Linked DNA regions of Homo sapiens. The protein of the gene in region 7 interacts with the protein of the main gene of each other region in a biochemical or structural test. Each region holds a gene or a part of one and is shown on either strand. Other genes may lie near its edges.

Evidence for each region.
Region 1: the proteins of CREBBP (region 7) and STAT2 form a complex in vitro, tested with the Homo sapiens proteins (2 studies listed by BioGRID).
Region 2: the proteins of CREBBP (region 7) and ETS1 form a complex in vitro, tested with the Homo sapiens proteins (3 studies listed by BioGRID, with this or other methods).
Region 3: the proteins of CREBBP (region 7) and IRF5 form a complex in vitro, tested with the Homo sapiens proteins (2 studies listed by BioGRID and IntAct, with this or other methods).
Region 4: the proteins of CREBBP (region 7) and ETS2 form a complex in vitro, tested with the Homo sapiens proteins (2 studies listed by BioGRID, with this or other methods).
Region 5: the proteins of CREBBP (region 7) and CHUK form a complex in vitro, tested with the Homo sapiens proteins (2 studies listed by BioGRID, with this or other methods).
Region 6: the proteins of CREBBP (region 7) and SMAD2 form a complex in vitro, tested with the Homo sapiens proteins (2 studies listed by BioGRID).

Annotation. Positions count from the first base shown.
Region 1 is NC_000012.12:56,353,608-56,357,107, forward strand, and holds part of STAT2 (signal transducer and activator of transcription 2), read right to left. Parts: intron 2,972-3,500; 5' UTR 2,965-2,971; coding exon 2,834-2,964; intron 2,679-2,833; coding exon 2,525-2,678; intron 2,197-2,524; coding exon 2,101-2,196; intron 1,926-2,100; coding exon 1,836-1,925; intron 1,745-1,835; coding exon 1,669-1,744; intron 1,257-1,668; coding exon 1,171-1,256; intron 1,008-1,170; coding exon 859-1,007; intron 1-858. UniProt on the Homo sapiens protein: Signal transducer and activator of transcription that mediates signaling by type I interferons (IFN-alpha and IFN-beta).
Region 2 is NC_000011.10:128,577,559-128,581,058, forward strand, and holds part of ETS1 (protein C-ets-1), read right to left. Parts: intron 1-3,500. UniProt on the Homo sapiens protein: Transcription factor. Directly controls the expression of cytokine and chemokine genes in a wide variety of different cellular contexts. May control the differentiation, survival and proliferation of lymphoid cells.
Region 3 is NC_000007.14:128,947,927-128,950,538, forward strand, and holds the end of IRF5 (interferon regulatory factor 5), read left to right. Parts: coding exon 1-195; intron 196-283; coding exon 284-402; intron 403-646; coding exon 647-892; 3' UTR 893-2,112; downstream 2,113-2,612. UniProt on the Homo sapiens protein: Transcription factor that plays a critical role in innate immunity by activating expression of type I interferon (IFN) IFNA and INFB and inflammatory cytokines downstream of endolysosomal toll-like receptors TLR7, TLR8 and TLR9.
Region 4 is NC_000021.9:38,812,429-38,815,928, reverse strand, and holds part of ETS2 (protein C-ets-2), read right to left. Parts: intron 2,927-3,500; coding exon 2,815-2,926; intron 1,657-2,814; coding exon 1,537-1,656; intron 1,149-1,536; coding exon 948-1,148; intron 1-947. UniProt on the Homo sapiens protein: Transcription factor activating transcription. Binds specifically the DNA GGAA/T core motif (Ets-binding site or EBS) in gene promoters and stimulates transcription.
Region 5 is NC_000010.11:100,223,097-100,226,596, forward strand, and holds part of CHUK (inhibitor of nuclear factor kappa-B kinase subunit alpha), read right to left. Parts: intron 2,922-3,500; coding exon 2,827-2,921; intron 1-2,826.
Region 6 is NC_000018.10:47,924,160-47,927,659, forward strand, and holds part of SMAD2 (mothers against decapentaplegic homolog 2), read right to left. Parts: intron 1-3,500. UniProt on the Homo sapiens protein: Receptor-regulated SMAD (R-SMAD) that is an intracellular signal transducer and transcriptional modulator activated by TGF-beta (transforming growth factor) and activin type 1 receptor kinases.
Region 7 is NC_000016.10:3,734,214-3,737,713, forward strand, and holds part of CREBBP (CREB-binding protein), read right to left. Parts: intron 2,603-3,500; coding exon 2,437-2,602; intron 1,991-2,436; coding exon 1,823-1,990; intron 1-1,822. UniProt on the Homo sapiens protein: Acetylates histones, giving a specific tag for transcriptional activation. Mediates acetylation of histone H3 at 'Lys-18' and 'Lys-27' (H3K18ac and H3K27ac, respectively).

The DNA.
Region 1 (3,500 bases), on a different chromosome or scaffold from region 7:
TAAATAGCTGAAAATAGGAGTTCATTAATTAAATTATGTTACCACCATATAGGGGACTGTTGTGTGGACATAAGAAATAACATGGATAAATATAATATACTGTTGGCCGGGCATGGTGGCTCACGCCTGTAATCCCAGCACTTTGGGAGCCCAAGTTGGGTGGATCACCTGAAGTCAGGAGTTTGAGACCAGCCTGGCCAACATGGAGAAACATCGTCTCTACTAAAAATACAAAAAAACTAGCCAGGCATGGTGGTGTGTGCCTGTAATCCCAGCAACTCGGGAGGCTGAGACAGGAGAATTGCTTGAACCTGGGAGTTGGAAGTTGCAGTGAGCTGAGATCGTGCCACTGCGCTCCAGCCTGGGCAACAGAGAGAGACTCCGTCTCAAAAAAAAAAAAAAAAAAAAAATATATATATATATATATATATATAAAAAATACTGTTAAGCTTAAAAAAAACCCCATGGATTTCAAAATAGTATGGACAATATGATTCCATTTTTGTTTAATAAGCTAGGTAATAGGTAATTTTCTCTTCCTCCTTCCTTCCTTCCTTTCTTGTCATTGTATTCGTTGCAGTAAAAAAAAAAATACATATATATATATTTCTGGGTGATTAAAAAAGAAGGAAAAACCAGATTGTGGGTTAATTCATTCCTTTCCCTGAAGGAGACTGGGCTCTGGGCTCCCTGCGTGGTGAGGATGAGGAGCAGAATAGAGCTGCAGTCAGCAGGGAGCAGGGCTCATTCTGGGGAGCAGAGACAAATAGAGAACAGTATCTCTTGCTATATGCAGGGCACTGCAACTTACAAATCACAGCGCATGGCGAGGACGAGGGTTGGGGTGGTACCTCTCACCATGTCTCCAGCTGTTCCAACCCGTGGTCAATGGGAGCTCTGATGCAGGCTTTTTGCTGCTGGGCCTTCCACTCCTCCAACTTTGGCAGCAGTAGCTCGATTAGGGTAGTTAATCGGCCTAGCAGTGCTTTGGAGGCATCCAGCACCTCCTGGGAAAGAGATAATGTGAGTGTTGAGCATCTCTCCCTTTCACCCTCCACCACCCAACTGGGGATGAAGAAACAAAGAAGCCAGCGCTAGAGGACCAGGGTCCCCACATCCCTCATTTTTCCAGGTCCTTGTTGCCCACATGTTCTGTCCTCTGTCTCCCACCTTTCTCCTTTTGTCCAGTTCATTGAGAGTTTCCTGCAGAATCTTCTGCTCTTTGGTCTGATGGGGGTCCAGAGAGGGTGTCTTCCCTGGATGGTGGGAACAGGAGTCAGTCCAGGGGTTCTTTCCTCTCCTTCCTGACTGGGGTCTCAGTCAGAGTCAGGAAGGAGGAATTTTGTGGAGGAAGAAAGGGAAACCAAGCAAAGCACAGGCACCTGTGGGACCCTCAGGCAAATTCTGAATGGTCATGCTTGGACCAGACACCCCCTCAAATAAAACACTGTTAGTTTTCCATGCATTTCCTCAACATTTACTGTCTCTCAGCTGCACCTCCAGCTCAGCCTCCACAAAGCACTTCCAGCTTTGCACGGCAGCAGGACTGTAGTCAGTGGGGTGTGTCTGACAGTGACTACTGCTCATCGGAGCTTTCTCCTGTTCACTTCCAGCTCCGGCTTCTCAGCAGGCACTTATCTTTCTCCAGCCCCTCAATGTGCTTCCTACCTTTGGCCTGGATCTTATATCGGAAGCAGAAGACATCCTGCTGGTCTTTCAGTTGGCTGATGGATTTTACCAGCTTCTGCAGAGGGGAGAGGACCCCGATGAGGCTGCTTCTCAGGGAGGTGTTAGGCTGAACGCTGTCAACCCTAACTCCTACCACATCTACTAACCTCCATCATAGCCCTTAAATCCAGGATCCGGGATTCAATCTCATGTTGCTGGCTCTCCACAGGTGTTTCGAGAACTGGCTCTCCTTGTTCCTGAAAAAAGAGGCTCTGAGCACGTTTTAACTCTGGCCTTTCATGCCTTAAGTTCAGGCCTGAAATTATACCACAGGATGTCGGGGGGATCCTGTTCTGAGACAACTCCCTGAGTCCTTTCCATGGTTCCTCTCTACTTCAGGAGTTTCCAACATTACCACTGAATTGTCCTCACCAATTGGGCCCTCTGAGCCTGGATCAAAATTCTTTTTTCTTCCAGAAGGAGGTTAAAGATCATCTCAGCCAACTGGGTAGGATCCTGGGAAAAGGGCTAGAATAGGTAAACAGAAAGGATTGATCCAATTCAACCACTCTCAATGACCTATTGCCCTAGACCCTCCCCACCAATGTCCACAGTATTTCCTCCTCCTTCGGGGTTCTTAGCCCTTTGTCTTTTCACCATAGCATCCTCCCAACAGTGTCACGTATATGCAACCCTTCTCTCTGCTAGTGATTCCCCAAGTCCAGACTCTGTCCTCCTTTCCCCACATTTGTTCCCGTCTCCCTTTCCACCTCCAGGTACTATTCTATTCTCCAAACCTTACTCCTCTATGCTCAGCTCCCAGTGCTACCCCATCACTCCCAACCGTTCCAAGTACCTGAATGTCCCGGCAGAATTTCCGCAAATTGTGCTGCAGCAACAAGGACTCTGGGTCCTGGCTGCAACGGCCACACTCATAGTTCAGCTGATCCAAGAAGTGGAAGAATAGCATGGTAGCCTTGGAATCATCACTCCCAAGTGCAGCTTCCTGCCTGGGCACCAGGAATAAGAAGTATTAGTGTCTCTGCAGTGTTACTGTAGTCCTGAGGCTTTCCAACCCCTTCCTGCCATTAATGATTCCAGGATCCCGGGGGCCCAGAAGTAAGGAACCACCTTTTTCATTCCCCCAACTTCCTGAAGGCCTCACCAGTTCTGGTCTTCAATCCAGACAGCCAAGTACTGTCGAATGTCCACAGGCAGGAGGCTGTGCGAGTAAAGCTGGTGCAGCTGATCCTGAAAGGGGCTGTCAAGATTCTGCAGCATTTCCCACTGCGCCATTTGGGCTCTGCGTCAGAAGGATGAGGGTTCCCAATTGGATATTTTGCTGGACTAAATCATCCATAGTTTCATGATTGTTCATTATTACTAATTTAAAATGTTTAAATTATACAAGTAATAAAAATACAGAAAACATTAAAATATATGTTGATCCTACTGCTAATCTTGGTTCTTTCCCCTCCTCTCCAGAAGTAACCACTGCTATCAGTTTGGTGCATATTCTTCCAGGGAGTGCTACCAGTTGAGTATCTGCTATTCCAAGCATTTTGGATTTCAGATTTGTCCAGATTTTGGAATATCTGCATTACTTACCAGTCGAGCATCCCTAATCCAAAACTCTGAAATCTGAAATGGTCCAAAATCTAACTTTTTGAGCACCCACATGACACTCAAAGGAAATGCTCACTGGAGCATTTTGGAGCCAAATTTTTCAGATTAGGAATGCCTAATCTGTATTTTTTTTTTTTTTTTTTTTTTTTTTTTAAGATGGACTCTCACTCTTTTGCCTGGGCCGGAGTGAAGTGGCATGATCTTGG
Region 2 (3,500 bases), on a different chromosome or scaffold from region 7:
AATAGTGTAAGTTAGAAAACTTGTACACACTTTTTCAGTGTAAACCCCTCTTTTTACAAATGAGGAGAAAGACTAAGGCGATGCTGCTAATTGGCCAAGCTGAGACCAGACTCCTGGTCTTCAGCCTCCTCCTGTGCTTAGAGAAGATGCTTCTCTAGACCTTTGTTACCCAGCGTCCAAATCATTTTTGCACCCAAACAGGTCTCATGGATGCTGCTTAGCTGGGGAGTAAATCTTCAGATGCCACAGTTGCTTTGCATTTATGCAATAAACGTGTGCAATGCTAAGAAAAAAATTGGTGCAGCTGATGTTCAAGCAGTTGTCACGTGGGAGGGAATTCTCTTCTGCCAAAAAGCCAAAAAAAAAAAAAAGAGAGAGAGAGAGAAGATGCTTCTCTAAGCACCCTCATCACCCTGGATGGCGAGGACAGAAACAAGCATGAGATGGAGAAGACAAAAAAGTCAACACTTTGGCTTATGTGGGTGTCTCATGTCCAAAAAATCACTTTAAAACTATGGTTCTGCTTGATTCTAGAGAGTTCTATTCTTCATAGAGCGAGTGACCACTTCTCCAACTTCCCACCCTCCCCAAACTGGCAACCCGGCCAGGACCTGTAGGCTCTCACTTCCTTTCACCCAAAGCTTGCCAGGGCAGGGCAGGGCAGGTTGAGAGACACAGAATAAAGGAAAAATTAGGGAGGAGAGGGACTGTTCAGGCCAAGGCAGCAGAAGAACAAGAAATCCCAAAGAGACCAGGCTTGAATCAAGGCTGAATCCAGTTCACATCAACTCTGACCCTGCTTGGCTGTATTTCTAGATAACTTTGACATCAGTTAAGCCTTTTTCATTTGGGGTTATGTATTCCTAAAAGAAAAACTACGCTTTTAGGTAAATACCAAGTAAATTACACTTTAATTTTTTTCTTTTGAAAACAAAATTCTTTTGAAATCAGCAGTTTTTGCCAAACTAATACAATGTTACCGCAAAAATTAAAATACAAAAAAGTAACAGATGGATATTAGAATCACCTGAAACCTCACCATGTAGAGATAATTATACTAATAATTTGTTCAATATTCTTCTGGGTATTTTTTAATCTATCTAAACGAACATAGATGTCACACACACACACGTGATTACAATTTTACCTTCATGAGATTATTCTCCACATGTTCTTTTGTAACCTGCTTTGTTCACTGACATTTAACATAATGCTATGGACATTTTTCTCTGTTGATAAATGTGGCTGTCTATCCTAAAGATGATGACTGCCAAGTATTCTATTGTATGTATATATCATACTTTTAAAGAGCCTCTTATTATCGTATAATTAATTTGTCCCCAATTCTTTGTCATTATAAAAATTCCTAAAATATTTTACATTCCCACTAAATGCCGAAAAAGAGCATTTTGGGGACAAAGAAAATATGCATTCCATATTTGAATACATATTGACTAACTGCATTCTATAATAGACCAGCCAAAATTAGACTCCCACTGACAAAGGCATCATGTTTTAAATTTCAACTTGCCCTCTCGTCTTCATGTTAGCTTCATAGGCAATGAATTATGGTTAAAACATATCCTGGGTATGAAGATGGCACATGGGGAATTCAAAAGCACAATAAAGCTGTGGCAGAAAATGTAGATTTCTCCCCACCACCCCTCACCCCAGCCTTTCCTCTTTGAAAACAATGCAAAATTTGAATAGATTTCCAATGAGCATTTATCCTAATGTCAATAATTTAGGATTCCTATCAATTCAAACAAAAAGCATGTCCTTTTGGCTTGGAATACAGGAGACAAAGAATTTGGCTTCCAGGGCTGGGCTCGGTGGCTCACGCCTGTAATTCCAGCAATTTGAGAGGCCGAGGCAGGCGGACCACCCAAGGTCAGGAGTTCAAGAGCAGCCTGACAAACATAGTGAAATTCCATCTCTACTAAAAATACAAAATTAGCCAGGTGTGGTGGTACATGCCTGTAATCCCAGCTACTTGGGAGGCTGAGGCAGAAGAATCGCTTGAGCCTGGGAGGCAGAGGTTGCAGTGAGCCGAGATCTCGCCATTACACTCCCACCCGGCAACAAGAGCAAAACTCCATTGAAAAAAAAAAAAAAAAAAGAATTTGGTGTCCAAAACAACTAACCATGTAAAAAAAACTTGCTCCAAACAACAGCACTTTTGCCAAACTAAAGGCAACACCTGGGCTACCAAGGCAACATCTTTAATCTACAATGTATAGAGTTTTAATTTCTTTTTTCTGAATACTATAGAAATGTATTTTTGAAGACTCAGAGTATCTCCTCTTTCAGGAAGCTTTCCCCTCCCCCCTACCCTCTTTGGCAATTGCATGGACCTCCTTGATGCCCCTCCATGGGATTTACTGTAACGGTGTAACAAAGTTCATGACACTTCCTGTATCTATGCCTGTTTCTGCTCCTGAATGATGAGTAACTTGAGAGTAAGGATGGTGTCTTTTCAGATGACACATAGTAGCCATGCAACAAGTGTCTGTTTACTAAATGAGGGAAAGTACCTAAAGTACTTGAAACAGAGTTGGTGTGTACAATCCTTGTGCGTCCTGAGCTTATCCAAGAGAGTAAGTTATCGTTTGGACATTAAAAAAAAAAAAAAAAAAAAAAAAAATCCCTGTGATGAAGTGTGTCCTTGTGTGACCCTGAGGTTAGGCTTCTCAAGAGTTAACTACAAGCAAGATGGCACTTTTCTCTAAACTATAGGATGTACCAGATTGATGAGTTCATCTATACTCCTTCAGTGTGTTCTTTCTGATTCTCATGAGTAGCCCACGTGTATTTCCCAAATCATTTGAGTAGATGTCTTCCCTGACCTGTCACTGTAACAAAAGCTCCCAAATCCAATTCTCTAAGAACTCAGGTTTAAGATCCATCATATCTAGGAAAGCTGAACATTCCTTACTCCCCATGGAAACTTTGTGGTTACAACGCATAGAAAAGAAAAAGGATTAGAAGAACTGAAGATGGTTTTTCTGTCTCACTACTAAATCTACAAGAACCTCATTTGCTTGACTAAGTAATCCAACATTACAGTAGTAGTGAATATTCCTTCTTATTTTAAGTAGCCAGCACTGACAAATGAAGGCTGTGTTCCAAATTATGGGCTACTGTCTTCTGTGTCTTAAGCTAAGTGCATTTATTCTTTCACTAAGGTTACAGAGCAGCAACTCACAGTACAATTAACATCTCAGTCTTTGTTTCTTCACAACTTCACTATAATTATTCCGCCAACCCTTGCTTAAATGGAAATGAGTCATATCCATCTCCTATTTCTCTAAAAATAAACCCATCTCCTAATTAAGCATAACACTTTCAAGTCCTGTATGAATTGACATAGCTCAACGAATCCTTCTTAGAATATTAAAATGAACTCATGTCATTATAATTTTAAAGAGTATATTGTTTTACCCTTCCTTGAGGAGTAACTCGCTACTATCTCCTGAAAAAGAGAAAGACTAGAAGATGTT
Region 3 (2,612 bases), on a different chromosome or scaffold from region 7:
ACACGAACCAGCTGCTGGATGTCCTGGACCGCGGGCTCATCCTCCAGCTACAGGGCCAGGACCTTTATGCCATCCGCCTGTGTCAGTGCAAGGTGTTCTGGAGCGGGCCTTGTGCCTCAGCCCATGACTCATGCCCCAACCCCATCCAGCGGGAGGTCAAGACCAAGCTTTTCAGCCTGGAGCATTTTCTCAATGGTGAGGGCCCAAAGCTGTGATCCTCCTGGCTGCCTCTTGCCCAGGGCATGGTTCCAGCCTCTGACTAGGGACCTTGATTTTGATGCAGAGCTCATCCTGTTCCAAAAGGGCCAGACCAACACCCCACCACCCTTCGAGATCTTCTTCTGCTTTGGGGAAGAATGGCCTGACCGCAAACCCCGAGAGAAGAAGCTCATTACTGTACAGGTACATCTCCCCTATCCCAAAGTCGGCCTTGGCTTGAAAACTGGGGAATCCTGGGGCTAGGCCCTTGCCCCAGGCTGGAGGCTCAGGGCTCCCTGAGCAGTGTGAACTTGGCGGCCAGAGACCATCAAGGCTCAGAGCCGGAGAATGCGGTCTATTACTCACCCCTGATGGCTGTCCTCATGCACAGCTGGATCTGGCAGCCCTGCCACAGGTCTCCCTGTCTCATCTCCTCTTTGCCTCCCAGGTGGTGCCTGTAGCAGCTCGACTGCTGCTGGAGATGTTCTCAGGGGAGCTATCTTGGTCAGCTGATAGTATCCGGCTACAGATCTCAAACCCAGACCTCAAAGACCGCATGGTGGAGCAATTCAAGGAGCTCCATCACATCTGGCAGTCCCAGCAGCGGTTGCAGCCTGTGGCCCAGGCCCCTCCTGGAGCAGGCCTTGGTGTTGGCCAGGGGCCCTGGCCTATGCACCCAGCTGGCATGCAATAACAAGGCTGCAGACGGTGACTGGCCCTGGCTTCCTGGGTGGCGGTGCGGACTGATGTGGAGATGTGACAGCCCCGATGAGCACCTGGCTGGCTGCAGGGTCCTACCTCTGGGTTTCCTGGAAGTGGATTTGGGCCAAGAAGGAGAGGGAGAAAGGCCCGAGCCCCTGCCTTCCCGGGCCTTTCTCTCCTGGGCTGTCTCTGGTCTGGTCAGCCTGGCTCTCGGGAAATTCAGCCATGAGCAGGGAAAGAACTCTCCCAACCCTGGGGCCTAGCTGTATAGGAGGAATTGCCTAAGGGTGGCCCACTCTTGTGATTGCCCCATTTCCTCTGGCAACAAAAGCCAGAGTGTTGTGGGCCAAGTCCCCCCACAGGGCCTCTGCAGGGCATGGCCCTGATTTCCCTGGTTTGAGACTCACTTCCTCATCTCCCTGTCCTCTGAGATAATATGAGTGAGCACTTAGGTATCATATCAGATGCTCAAGGCTGGCAGCTACCCCCTTCTTGAGAGTCCAAGAACCTGGAGCAGAAATAATTTTTATGTATTTTTGGATTAATGAATGTTAAAAACAGACTCAGCTGTTTCTTTCCTTTTACTACTACCAGTTGCTCCCATGCTGCTCCACCAGGCCCTGTTTCGGATGCCAACTGGCCCACTCCCCAAGCACTTGCCCCCAGCTTGCGACCATTGGCACTGGGAGGGCCTGGCTTCTGGGCTGATGGGTCAGTTGGGCCTTCATAAACACTCACCTGGCTGGCTTTGCCTTCCAGGAGGAAGCTGGCTGAAGCAAGGGTGTGGAATTTTAAATGTGTGCACAGTCTGGAAAACTGTCAGAATCAGTTTTCCCATAAAAGGGTGGGCTAGCATTGCAGCTGCATTTGGGACCATTCAAATCTGTCACTCTCTTGTGTATATTCCTGTGCTATTAAATATATCAGGGCAGTGCATGTAAATCATCCTGATATATTTAATATATTTATTATATTGTCCCCCGAGGTGGGGACAGTGAGTGAGTTCTCTTAGTCCCCCCAGAGCTGGTTGTTAAAGAGCCTGGCACCTACCCGCTCTCACTTCATCTGTGTCATCTCTGCACACTCCAGCCCACTTTCTGCCTTCAGCCATTGAGTGGAAGCTGCCCCAGGCCCTTACCAGGTGCAGATGCCCAATCTTGATGCCCAGCCATCAGAACTGTGAGCCAAATAAACCTTTTTCTGTATAAATTACCCAGCCTCGGGTCTTCGTTTACAGCAACGCAAAATAGATTAAACCCCCATAAATGTTCAAGGATACCTTGCCCCACAGCCTCGTCCACAGAATATATTGTCACTGTTTGGATTTTTGCCAACCTGACAGGTGAGATAGTATCTCAGTGCCACTTCTCATTATCAGCAAGGCTGAGTAGCTTTTCACATGGTTAAGTGGCCTGTACAGATTTTTTTAAATAATTTTAGAATGGTTTTAGATTTATGGAAAAGTTCCTAATAGAGTTCCTATGGACCCACACTTTCTCCAATTGTTAACATCTTACATTACTATGGCACACTTGTGACAATAATGAAACCATGTGGACAATTACTATGAACTCAACTTCTTTATTTGGATTTCATGAGTTTTTCGGATATCCTTTTTCTGTTCCAGGATACTATCCAAGATATCACATTACATTCACTTGTCACATCTCCTTAGACTCCTCTGGTCTATGACAGTTTCTTAGACTTTTCTT
Region 4 (3,500 bases), on a different chromosome or scaffold from region 7:
AGTCTCACTCCCACAGGCTGGAGTGCAGTGGTGTGATCTCGACTCACTGCAACCTCTGCCTCCCGGGCTCAAGGGATTCTCCTGCCTCAGGCTTCCGAGTATCTGGGATTACAGGCATGTGCCACTATGCCCAGCTAATATTTTTATTTTTTGTATTTTTAGTAGAGACAGGGTTTCACCATATTGGCTAGGCTGGTCTTGAACTCCTAACCTCAAGTAATCTGCCCGCCTCCGCCTCCCAAAGTGCTGGGATTACAGGTGTGAGCCACCGCACCTGGCCCTCTTTTCTTTTTTAACTCAACATGTTTTAAACATTGGTCTCCCTGCTATTTTAAGTTTTGAATCAAGACTTTCTCTGTATTTGGTGAGATTTCTACTGATCAATGGCCAGTTTCTGTACAATATGATAGCGTGTAAATATATATCAATTTCTCACTTGTTTAAAAACAGACCCCGCCCCCTCAACAATCCTCAACATCCAAAATACATTCCATTTGGATGTAGGAAAATTTACAGTAGAATTCACAGGGTTTATGTGAGTAAAGGCTCCCCCCTTTCATTAAGGCTGCCATATCTCTTAGCTCTGTAAGGTGAGCTCAGAAGACGTGGGAATTCTTGCTGTCCTACATATCTGAGTCAACATGGACTCCCGTGATGAATACAGCCAGCAATAGCAAACAATTTAGTGACTAAGGCTACTACCTTGTGGCTATACTTGATGCTATACACACACACACACACACACACACACACTCACATAAAGTGGGATAAAAATCTATAATCACTGCCATATATCTGACTCACTTGAGTGGCATTTTGAGGCAAGGTACTCTATGTCATTTCAAGTGGCAACCCTAAGGTTGAAGAACACCCACGTGACTTTCCCAATCAGTCTTCCCGGCCACAGCTCATCCTGGACAAGGAGAAGTAAGACGTTCAGCTGGTACCTTTGATCATTTGCTCCAGATGTTCCCAGAGAATGTCACCCACAAAGTCAGGTGCCAGCTCCAGAAAGCGTTCCTTGCCAAGGTTACACAGCATCTGGCCATTCATGCCGAACCTCTGCAGATTCACGTTCACCAGACTGAACTCATTGGTGGCCCAGAGAAGCCACTGGCATACCTGTTGCTCACTCCACAGCCAGGGGTCTACCAGGAGAGAAGAAAAAATGGAACACATGAGGTAAAAACAGTGGAAAGGTAGTGAGACCACTGTCATCCCTAATTTATGCACCAAGTACCGACATACACCAGAACCCACGAATGAGCAAGATACCATGATGACACGTCACCATTCTGACACGACCCAGGCACATTTCAAGACACCAGTAATGCGTCCTTCTACTACATATTTAATGAGTTCTGGATCAAGTCTTGGGTTGATTGGGGTGAAACAGAAACTGGCTCAGGTTAACGACATCCATGCTACTCTTTGCAGAATACCCCAAGCAAAAGCTTAATAAACAAGTCAAGATCAAACAACTGCACTGAAGTTGGTTCTTCTCACCCAGTGCAGGCTCAGGAAAGCAGTACTTACTCTTTGGAATGCCCAGGCGCCGCTGTTCCTTTTTGAAGCCACTGAAGGTAGCTTTTAAGGCTTGACTCATCACAGCCTTGCTGCACGGGGTTAACAAAGGCAATTCACAGTTGGCGGAGTCTGGAAGGAAACCCCCCATGGGGACATTAGGACTTCAAGTTGGTGATATCAGGTGGAGATTTAGGAGAGACATCTTAGTTTTTGGAAAAGAACAATTTTGATCTCAAACCTTGGCATGATTCCTTAAAACAGTGTAACTATTAACAAAAAACTTTTCTGACTATAATTGAGAAAATATATATCTCAGAACTATACTTATTAAAAAAATCTAAAATAAAACTCAGATTTGATTCTATTTTGCAAAGCGTCACAAAGCAGTTGTGCGTAGGGAAAACTGCTAAGTCTATTTTAAAATTGTAGGCAATGAAAACAGTTGCATGGTTTCTGGTCAAAAGGCTGAAGGGACTGTATCATTTGGAAGTCACTTCCATTAAACTAGGCGTAGAGCTGAGAAGTGAGTGTGATATGAATGTGCCGCACTTAGCACGGTAATGGAACCACACCTTCCATTTTTATTGAAAAACAATCTTCTCCAGACACCCTCAGCAATTTCAAGAATGATAAATGGCTGCCATGCAGGGTTATGCTTACGCCAGTGTATGCGTTTTAATTAATTTTCTGGCCTGTATTCTCAGCACCTACTTCACATGACACAGTCATCTCTGGCATGTTTCCAACTAATAGCTCTGTCACAGTAATTGTATGAACATTATCTGACGTGCTATTCCTTTAAGAAGAATAAACAATGACACGAAGAACTACAGAAAGAACTACCGATGGGTAAGGATTACAAAGAACAATTTGTTGCCCCAAAACTCAGGGCAGGGGAGATGATTTAACTAATGATGCAAACCCAAATTACAAGTTTGGGTGTGTTTTAATGTCTACTCTTCTGTCTGTTTTCCAGGGCAGAGCAGGGAGATGAGGACCTGCTTGCCAATGTTGAAAACATCCAGGAGGGGCAGCTCAGGGGTTCCCCTGCAGTTTCCTAACAGCGGCTCACTGGGGGGCGTCTGGCACTCAAGACATCAGAATCCACATCAGAATCACCAAGTTGATACAAATGAAAAACTGCCTTCTCCCAGGTCCAGAACTTCTGGCTATTCATATCAAAGATTCCAGATACCAACATTTCTCACTTAGGAACTGTCATCTCTTTATTAACTGAACTACTTAGGAAAATCATGCACAATTTGTCAAGTCTGAGGAACCAATTACCATGAGAAATGGAATCCAAGCCTGTTGGCACTTCTTGCAGTGTTTGCTCTTCATTTAGAGAAGGAAAAACAGCAAACAGGGACCCATCAAAGGTGTCAAAGGCTGGCTGGCGCTGCAAAAACAGATGGAAAAAAAATGGAAATACAATATTTAAACTGATTGAATTACCTGTTGTAAAAGTGGTCTGTGGGCAATCCTACCAATAGTCCCTGATTAAACTGGCAATTTTGAAGCAAACATGGAATCAACCAGTCAGTCCTTAAAACAGACTCGTAAAATGGTCAAAGTGACTGAAATGATTGTATTTTACTGTGGATTATTATTATTATTATTTTGAGACAGGTCTTACTCTGTCACACAGGCCAGAGTGCAGTGGTGCAATCTTGGCTCACTGCAACCTCCCCCTCCTGGGTTCAAGCGATTCTCCTGCCTCAGCCTCCCGAGTAGCTGGGACTACAGGCGCCCACCACCACGCCTGGATAATTTTTGCATTTTTAGTACAGACAGGGTTTCACCATGTTGGCCAGGCTGGTCTCAAACTCCTGACCTCGTGTAATCCACCCGCCTTGGCCTCCCAAAGTGCTGGGATTACAGGCGTGAGCCACGGTGCCCGGCCACTGTGGATTTATTTAAGTAACCTCACAGAGTCGGAGTGACTGGGAATTTGTTTTAGTGGCCTAATCCAC
Region 5 (3,500 bases), on a different chromosome or scaffold from region 7:
TATAATATTCTAATTTCTGATTTGTATAATTAAAAATTAGTAATTTTTTAAAAGAAAACACACATAAAAATACCATCACTATTACTACTATTACATTTCTAAGTGCCAAGCAGTAAACATTTTAAATATATTAACTCAGTTACTTGTCACAATAATCCTATTATAGGTAGATTTATTAATACTTTCACCACACAGGAGAAAATTGAAGCACAAATTGGCTAAGTAACAAGATCACACAGTGAGTAAGTCAAATCTGGCGTTCTAGGCTGGGTGTAGTTGTAACTGTAATCCCAACAATTTGGGAGGCTGAGGTGGGAGGATTGCTTGAGGCCAGGAGTTCGAGATCAGCATGGGTAACACAGTGAGACCTCATCTCTACAAAAAATTAAAAATTAGCCGGGTGTGGTGGCGCATGCCTATAGTCCCAGCTACTCCAGAGGCTGAGGTGGGAGGACTGCTTGAGCCCAGGAGTTCAAGTCAAGCCTGGGTAACATAGCAAGACCACATCTCTTTTAAAAAAAAAAAGAAAAAAAGAAAAAGAAGCAAACAGAATTTCCATGTACATGTAGGACCTGATAATTTATACTATTAAGCTTTCCTGGTGATTCTGCCACATAACCAAGTTTGAGAATCAAAATGGAATTAAGCACAGATATTAGAGTCAGAAAGTATTTATTTCAAATCCACACTTTACCAACCACCAGCTATGTGATTCTATAAGCTTCAACTTCCTCATTTGCAAAATAATACCTAAATATAAGATTGCTGTGATAACTGGAAGAATGATCTGTAAAGTACTTAGCACACTACCTGTGGAAGTTTTAAAATATGTCTACTTCTCTTTTTAAGAGCTTAACTCTCCTCCCCTTGAATGTAGGCTGTACTTAGTGACTCACTGTAACAAACAGAATGTGGTGGAAAAGGATGGAGTCTCACTTCCAAGTAAAGATCATAAAAGATACGTCGGTTTTCATCTTGCTCGCTCGTTCACTCTCTCTCTCTCTCTCTCTCTCTCAGATCACTCACTCTTTCTGAGGAAAAGATCTTTCTGGGGAAAGCTAGCTTCCATGTCATGAAAACATTCAAGCTTCCCCATGAAGAGGCCCACATGGCGAAGAACTGATGCTTTTGGCCAACATTCATATAAGTGAGCATGGAAGCAGATACTCCAGCCCCAGTCAAGCCTTTGGATTACTGCAGCTCCGACCAATATCCTGAGATGTCTCAGGAAAGACTCTAAGCTAGAATCACCCAGCTAAGCCACTCCCAAATTCCTAAGTCACAGAAACTATAAGATACTAAATGTTTGCTATTTTAAGCCACTAAATGTTGGGGTAATTTATTTTTTATTATTTATTTATTTATTTAGAGACGGAGTCGCCCAGGCTGGAGTGCAGTGGTATGATCTCAGCTTACCGCAACCTCCGCCTCCCGGGTTCAAGCAATTCTCCTCCCTCGGCCTCCCAAGTAGCTGGGATTACAGGCACCCGCCACCACACCTGGCTAATTTTTGTATTTTTAGTAGAGATGGGGTTTTGCCATGTTGACCGGGCTGGTCTCAAACTCCTGACCTCAGGTAATCCATCCGCCTTGGCCTCCCAAAGTGCTGGGATTATAGGTGTGAGCCACCACGCCCGGCCCTAGCTGACTTTTGTTAACTGAAATGAAATAGTTTTTTGATTGTGGTAAAACACACATAGCATAAAATTTACCACCTTAACCATTTTTAAGTGTACAGTTTAGTGGCATCAAGATGCTTTCCTTTTTTTTCAGACAGGGTCTTGCTCTTGTCACCCAGGCTGGAGTACAGTGGTATGATCTCAGCTCACTGTAGCCTTGACCTCCTGGGCTCAAGCAATCTTCCCACCTCAGCCTCCCAAGTAACTGGGACTACGGGCATGCACCACCACACATAGCTAGTTTTTATATTTTTTGTAGAGATGGGGTTTTGCCATGTTGCCCAGGCTGGTCTCGAACTCCTGAGCTCAAGCAATCCACCCACCTCAGCCTCTCAAAGTGTTGGAATTACAGTGTGAGCCAACATGCCCAGCCTGGCATCAAATACTTTCACAATGTTTTGCTACTATCACTATACTGCACAAAACTGTTTAATTCTGCAAAGCTGAAACTCCGCACCTATTAAAAATTATTCTCTATTTGCTGGTCCCTTCACCCTCTGGCAAACACCATTCTACTTTCTTTCACTGTGAGTTTGACTACTCTAGGTACCACACATAAGTGGAATGACACAGTATTTGTCTTTTTGTGACTGGCTTATTTCATTTAGCATAATGTCCACAAGATTCATCCATGCTGTGGCATGTGTCAGAGTTTCATTCCTTTTTAAGGCTGCATGATATTCCGTTTCATGAATATACCACATTTTGTTTATACATGTCTCTGCTGGTAGATACTGGGTTGCTTTTACCTTTCAGCTATTGTGAATAATAATGTTATGAATATGAGTGTACAAATTACTCTTTAAGTCCCTGCTTTCAATTCATTTTTGTATATACCCAGAAATGGAATTGCTGGATCATATGGTAATTCTATTTTTAATTTTTTAGGAATCACCGTACTGTTTTCCGTAACAGTTGCACAATTTTACATTCCCACCAACAGTGTGTAAGTGTCCTAGCTGATTTTAACTAAACCTTCTTAATCTTAATGTGATATTATTATTTGAAATAGAATATATTTAATGAGAGAAAAAAATATATGTTCCCAAAAAGATCCTGAGAAGAGTGGATTCCTGGCCTCTTTCCCCATGATGACATCTGGTTGGGCTGTAGAACCAGGGAAATGTAAGTCAAGGAATACACTTACTTCTTCATAATCTGGATTTCATGGCACCATCGTTCTCTGTTTTTGGTACTTAGCTCTAGGCGACAAGACTTAATTGCTATTTTGAGATCAAGTTCCTGCCAAAATAGAAAATCAACAGAAAAAAAAAATTAGGTTCTTGTGAAGATTTATTTGCTACCAAAGAAATAACTTAAGACAACAAAACTTTTTAGCTTTACTAATTAAATATATTTATCCACAGCTCTCTTGAGGCAATGCTTTTTAAAAAGATAAACCATGAGACTATTACACCAATGCTTTAAAACTGACCTTCAAACACACAACAGCATACAAGGGAAAAGTGCCTGAAACTGATTTTATAACAGGTCTTTTCAGAACTCTCTCTCATATATAATGTTAGAAAAAAAAAGATCCTGTCTCCTCAGCAAACCCCTTTCAGAGCTTAATCAAGACAACTAATATGTGCCCCAGCTTCTAGCATAACTAAAATGAAGAAGGTAATTCAGGGCTTCCTGGACTCCAAACAGCAAGAGAAAGTTTTAATATAACCAAGCCTAAAGCAAAAAACTCCAATCCTAATGTATGCATTTCAAATGACATGAAGAAAAAAAATCCTACCAATGAGTGTACTTCTGCTTCCATAGCTACATAATGAACCTAACATCTCTTGCCTGTGACTAGTAATTTAGCCAATT
Region 6 (3,500 bases), on a different chromosome or scaffold from region 7:
ACTGCTTGAACCTAGGAGGCGGAGGTTGCAGTGAGCCAAGATCGCACCACTGCACTCCAGCCTGGGCAACAGGAGCAAAACTCCGTCTCAAAAAAAAAAAAAAAAAGAATTTTAAAAGTGGATCTCAATAAGGAAAATTTACATTTACTACCACAGATAAAGTATCTCTAGTCAACAAAAGAGTTTCAATAGTTCACTCAAGTCAAGGCAGAAGGCTCACGGGCCCAGCTTCCACTGCATCATTTATGAGGATTTTATATAGGAGGCTCTGCAAAAAAGATTTGCCACCCCACATTTTCTTTTTTTTCTTTTTTTTTTTTGAGACGGAGTCTTGCTCTGTCTCCCAGGCTGGAGAGCAGTCGCGGGATCTCGGCTAACTGCAACCTCGGCCTCCCCGGTTCAAGCAAGTCTCCTACCTCAGCCTCTTGAGCAGCTGGGACTACAGGTACCCGCCACCACACCCAGCTAATTTTTGCATTTTTAGTAGAGACAAGGTTTCACCATGTTGGCCAGGCTGGTCTCAAACTCCTGACCTCAAAGTGATCCGCCCGCCTCAGCCTCCCAAAGTGCTGGGATTACAGGCGTGAGCCACTGCCTCCGGCCTCACCACCTCACATTCTGAAATGAAAGACGTGATGAGGATGGAACGTTTCCTTGATATTTACAAGACCTTAACCATTATGTCTCTACAGAATTTCTGGAAGTAGCTGAAGCAGCATATGAAAATGTAGTTTACTTTTAAACATAGGCAAACTATAAGATCACAGATTCACTATGCTACTTCCTCAGATCAAGAGTCTTTTTTGACTTAAGAGACTCAAACTAATGAACAGATGGAATACCAGTGGTTCACCCAAGATTATTCCTACTGAATACATTAAATGTGAAACTACATCCCCCTTCCCCACAAAATGAGGGAAGGTATGACACTGTAGATTATTCAAGGAAATGCAAATTTTTACATTAAGGTAGACACGTGTACTAAACAGAAGCAACTAAAGTCTATCCTCGCTTTCCACTACTCTACAGCCTTGAGGCCAATGTAAAACCAGATTTTGAAAAATGACAGGGCTACCTAGGATAATTAGTGACAATTTCACAGTAAATTCACAAACTTTGATAAGAATTAATCACGTCAGAATTTCTATTTTCTTAAGACTACAAACCTAAAGATACATCAAGCACCTGTCCTATCAATGTGCCTCAGTTACAAATAAGAGGAACCCACTGAGCCAAGGAGAACCACTCACACTGTACAATGTGAGGCAAGCACAGAAGACACAGAATTGCCCTAATATTTCTGGCTATCTGACCAAACTAAAGGCAGTGTCTAAATCCACCTGGCTTGGAAAAATTATATTCTCCCTACATGAAATTGCTGAACTGAAGCTGCGAGCTATCTTTGAGATGTAAATCTAGAATCAACATTGAATTATGTCCTAACTGAATACATCACAATTACACCAACCTGAAAAAATGATCAAAATTGATCAATGACAAGCAATAAGCCTCTAACTATGCATTTTTAAACCAAAAAGGCTAGTACTTTTGTACTACTGCTAAAAAAAAACCTGATTCTTAAAAACAGCCAAGGCTACATATTACAAGGTCACCAATAATTATCTGATGGTGTAGATGGTTTAAGAAGTAACCCTGAGGTAAGGTTACAAGAAAGGGGATCAAAAAAATTATCAGTGCTAATACTGGGCAGAAGTCACATGACAAGAGTCAAGAAACCCTCAACAGAGAGACTGGCCAACTATCCACTCTTGCTTTATCCTAGAAATCTCGAGCATACTCTATCTCAAAACACAGTGAAAAGCATACACTACTGTCAAAGCACAAGTGAAAATTTATATGATACTCCTGCAGACTGACAAAAAAATTACTTACACCAAAGAAAGGGGTGACATAGGGTGCTACCACACTGAAACAGCCTTTCTTTACTGCTGGCTACCCTTTCAGCTTGGAATCTGAATGGCTGTCTGAATGGCAAAACAAATGAAAAACATCTTGGTCATAACAGCTACTGTGATCTTTCATGAAATAAGCCATAAGCTATAGCACAATCTTCAACCCCTTTAAGAACATTTCTTAATCATCCTGAGTGACAATCTAAAGTATATTACGTAGATTATTGCACTCTTAAAAAGATTTTCCCAAACATGATTTAGGCTAATTGATGAACATTCATTACTATGCTTTCAGGTCTGGTCCTGCACTCAATGGCCCCAGACATGCTAGTCAGGCTTTGACTATTTTTGTGTCTTGTAGATTATCTCTATTATCCTCACCGAGCTGTTATCTGTTTTTTCTGACAAGAGACACTAGGCTAACATCCTACTCCCCAGCCCCCACCACACCCCCTCTAAGCCTCCCACAGTACCCATAATCTACTTGTTTCTAATCTAGTGCAGGTTTAGAAGCCAGATAACTTTGCTTGTTAGAAACACTTTAAATAAATGCCAACACATTCTTATTAAGGGTCTCCAAGGCTCTCCTAAGCTTTAAGCTATGGACTGGGACAATTTGGCTATCCCAGGCCTTTGTTGTTCATTGTCTGCTTCTCAAATACATTTTACAATAGGTCCATAATAACAGTGTAGGCAAATCATTTGGATTAGAAAGAGCCCAAGTAACAAACCCACAACTACAAGAGAGGAAGAAATCATTTGGGAGGACCCTTATATCTCAGGCAATGTTCTAGGTACTTGAATTGTGATCACTGAATAAGAGGAAGGGGTTAGTACTTCCATTTTGTGTCAGAAAACCAAGGGCCTGGGGTTGGTAGTAAATTGCCCAGTATTGTAACTGAGAAACAAAATATTAGGCTAGGGCTCTCTGATTCCAAAACCCAAGGCCTTTCCACTACATGAGACTGCTGTCCAATCCTGGGTCTCGGTTTAACTAACTTTTTACACTATTCCCGATCCTTTCACTGAGTTATTCAACTCTGCTTTCTTTCCTTAACCAGCTTCTGTAATTAAAGGGCAATAAGTGATCAAATTAAGGTCAGATGAAGCTTAGCTCTACAAGTGTACATCTGTTCAGCAATAAACATGTTTCTGAAAGACTGGCCGTATCTTCAGTTTGTATAGACTGTGCAAAACTGGTGCCAAGGTCCCCCCAAAATACACAGATTGTTCCCAGTGACACTGAGTAACACTTCACATCTTCCCTAGTGCTATCTGCTACATGTTACAGGAAGCAAGGCAAGCTCACTTTAGGAATGGCTCAGTAATGCATGTGCCCTTGATTTGTACACTAACAACTGTCTTACTCTAAACACTGGAGAATAGGGCAAGGGACATGAGTTTCCACTTTTCTAACTCCATTAAGGAACAGGGGTGTACTTGTTTGCTGTTAAGAGACTTTATTGCCTAGTCCAGAGCCTGACACACAGAAAAAGCTGTTTGTTGAATAAATGAATAAATGTATTTGTTGAAAATAAATGCATCGGCCAGGCGCGGTGACTCACGCCTGTAATCCCAGCACTTTGG
Region 7 (3,500 bases):
GAGCTAATAGCAAAGCAGTGCTCCACCCCACGCACCAGCCCTCACTAAGGCTGACCCCCAGAGCGAGCTCCTGGGGTGTTGCTGACGAAGGCATGTCCCTGCCCATTGTTGTCCATGAACCAAACACACAAGGGACAGCAGGTCTACATGCCGACACCTCAGCATCCCGCCTCCTAACACATGCATGTCCCCGGTGCACAGGGAAGGCTGCCCCAGCAGGAGCCCCTATCAGGCCTGTCTTCTGGACAACCCCACTGCTGCCATGCCACAGGCAGGTGCCCCCTCCTGGGGTGGAACTCAGCTGCGCAAAGCCTGTCTCGGACGCGGTAACCTCCCGTGTCACCCTTAGGAGATGGAACTCAAGCATTAACTCACCAGACACCAGTGAGACCAGCTACACTCCAGCGGGAGCAAGTCCGAAGACAACAGGCCAGGAGCTCTGCTTAGGAGCCACCTAGGGCGTAAACCCACGCCACCCCCTGCCCGCGCCTCCTCTGTCCTGCGAATGACACTCTGGGGCGCCGTCCAGCAGGTGGCTGCCTCTCAACCACCTGTGCAGTGAGCACGAGTGTGTGTGGCGGAAGCGGCCCAGGCCCCACGCTCCGCCTACAGCCCATCCGGCACCCACCTCACAGACGTGCTCTCATATGGGACAGGCACCAGAGTGGCAGTATGTCCCCAGCCGGCTCCCGGCTGCCTCACCCATGGCAGCAGCCCACGCAAGAGCCACCTCCATTCACCGCTTTTCCTCACTGGTCACAATCGCCTGTCCCAAGTTCTGGGGCTGCAGCCTTCAACGTTCGTCATCGCTCTCCCTGCACCTACAGCTACAGCCCACACCCACGCCACCATCATCTCTTCCCCAGACAGCCGCACAAACCCGCACACAGCGCGCCTCCTCCCACCGCCTGGCGGGTCCTCTTCCAGCACCTTCCTGTGGTGGGCGGGTCTGGCCCACACGCCACCTCCCCAAGGCTCCTTCCCCTTCAGAGCTCTGCCACGCTCAGAGCACACCATGCTTGGGTCTGGGTTCTTTTTGTTTCACATCCTACCAGGACACAGCCACTCCCTTGGGGGCGGAGATGGGGTTTTGTTTGTTCTGAAACGGAGTCTCGCACTGTCTCCTGGGCTGGAGTGCAACGGCGCAATCTAGGCTCACTGCAACCTCCGCCTCCCGGGTTCAAGCGATTCTCCTGCCTCAACCTCCCTCGTAGCTGGGATTACAGGTGCCCCCTCCCACAACCGGCTAAATTTTTGTATTTTTAGTAGAGATGGGGTTTCACTGTGTTAGCCAGGCTGGTCTCCCTTTCCTGACCTTGTGATCCGCCTGCCTCGGCCTCCCAAAGTGCGGGGTTACAGGTGTGAGCCACCGCGCCTGGCCAGGGATGGGGTTTTGTTTGGCTCAGTCTGCACTGCCTGGCACTCAGGGGCAGCGCCAAGGAGAGAGGGCAGCAGGGCATGAGCATCATGTGCAGAGTGGCCACCAAACACGGAATAAGGCCTGGCAACCCTGTGCCTCCTCGACTCACTTTTTACATCAGCGGGTTGTGTCCTGACTGCCCCATGTCCCATTTTCTGTCTTCCTCTCTTCCCTCTCCGAGTCTAAGTGGACCCCCAGCTCCCCAGAGCATCCACTGTGCAGAGAGTGCAGAGCCCACACTGCTGCCCACCAACGCCCTGTGCTGCAGGTGGTGTCGACGTGCATGTGTGAACGGAGACACCACCACAGGAAGGACCTAACAGTCGACACGCGCCTCCCAGCCTGCCACCCTGCAGCTCCAGCGGGACACGTGGGCAATGGAGCTCAGAGAAGGGTCTGTACCTCAGTGGTTTCACTGGCTGCAGTGCTCTCTTCCTTTTTCCTCTCCTCTTCTTCTTGTTCTAGTTCCTTAATGCTCTCTTCTAACACATTGGGCCAGAAATCACCTTCAAAATAGGGCAGTTCCTTGGCACTGGTGAGCCTGTCTTCAGTTGCTTGTTTGAAAATATCCTGAGTGGGCAAAGCACAACAGTGAGATGAGGGCCATGCACGCGTGCCCCCCACCATGGTGCGACAGACCCCCACGCAAGCGTGCCCCTCACCATGGTGTGGCAGAGTCCCATGCATGTGTGCCCCCCCACCACAGTGCAGCAGACCCCCACACATGTGCACCCCCCACCACAGTGCTGGAGCCCCTATGTGTGCAACAGTGATGCACAGGCCCCAATGCCCACTGATGGAAACAGCTCCAACTGTGCTGCTCTCAGACGGCCAGGGGAAAGCCTCAATCAGCTGAAGAAAATGCTTCTAAGTTCTCACTTTAGGCTTTTATTTTTCTGCTTTCTAATCCTCATAAGTGAAGGTAATTAACAAGTATGCGAATGCAAGAAAAAGGCACACAAATATCCTCCCCTCAGTTGTGACAAAAGCCACCACCTTCCTTCAGCGCCGGGTACCTTGTAGTCATGGATGATCCGCTCTGCAAACGCCTTGTCCAGCATCTTTTTGTACCACTCCTGCAGTCGTTTTGGCTTGGGTATTTTTTGATCAGGTGGGTGGCAATGGAAGATGTAATCATCTCCTTCACTTGGAGGACAGGCCCAGATGTGCCCTGTCACATACCTGCAGGACCCACGCACACACGTCAGATGAACGTGCCAGTGAAATCGGCCCTGCCTTTAAGGAGTTATAGCAGAGGAGCAAGGACTAAAGCCAGGACAGAAGTAACCAGAGAGAGAGAATGAATGCCCACAAAGCTGGGTGTGGTGGGGGCAAGGCTCGAACTTTATCCTGAGCAAATGCAAGCCTGCAAATTAGCCCTGCAACACTTCTCCCTTGGGGTGCACACACAGGGCAGGGCCGAGGCTGCAAAAGAAACCTGAGGCCTCATTAAAGAACCAGGGAATATGATGGCTCATCAAGGCAATGCCATCCCCTTCCTCCTGTGCACTGTAAAGGCAGTTCGGTTGACTATTTTTCTCCAAGGGTCAATGTCAACATAAACCTCATTCATTCTGTTCAAGACACTTTGATCAAATGCCCCTATCCTTTTCAAGTTTCAGAAGGGAATGGGGCAGGTCTAGAGTACAGAAACCAAGGGCTAGAGAAGGAAGCCAGACCCAAGACAGCATACGCTGCAGGGTTCCGTTTACACAAAGGATTCACAAAAGACAAATTCAGAGAGACAAAGTAGATTAGTGGTCGCCTGGGGCAGGGAAGGTTTAACAGCAAGGGGCAGGAGGAACATTTTTTTTCTTTTTTCTTTTTTTTTTTTTGCGGGCGGGGGGCAGAGTTTCATTGTTGTTGCCCAGGGTGGAGTGCAATGGCATGATCTCGACTCAGCGCATCCTCTGTCTCCCTGGTTCGAGTGGCTCTCCTGCCCCCACCTCCTGAGGAGCTGGGATTACGCTAGGCACCCGCCACCACGCCTGGCTCATTTTTTGTATTTTTAGTACAGACAGGGTTTCACCATGTTGGTCAGGCTGGTCTTGAACTCCTGATCTCAGGTGATCCACCTGCC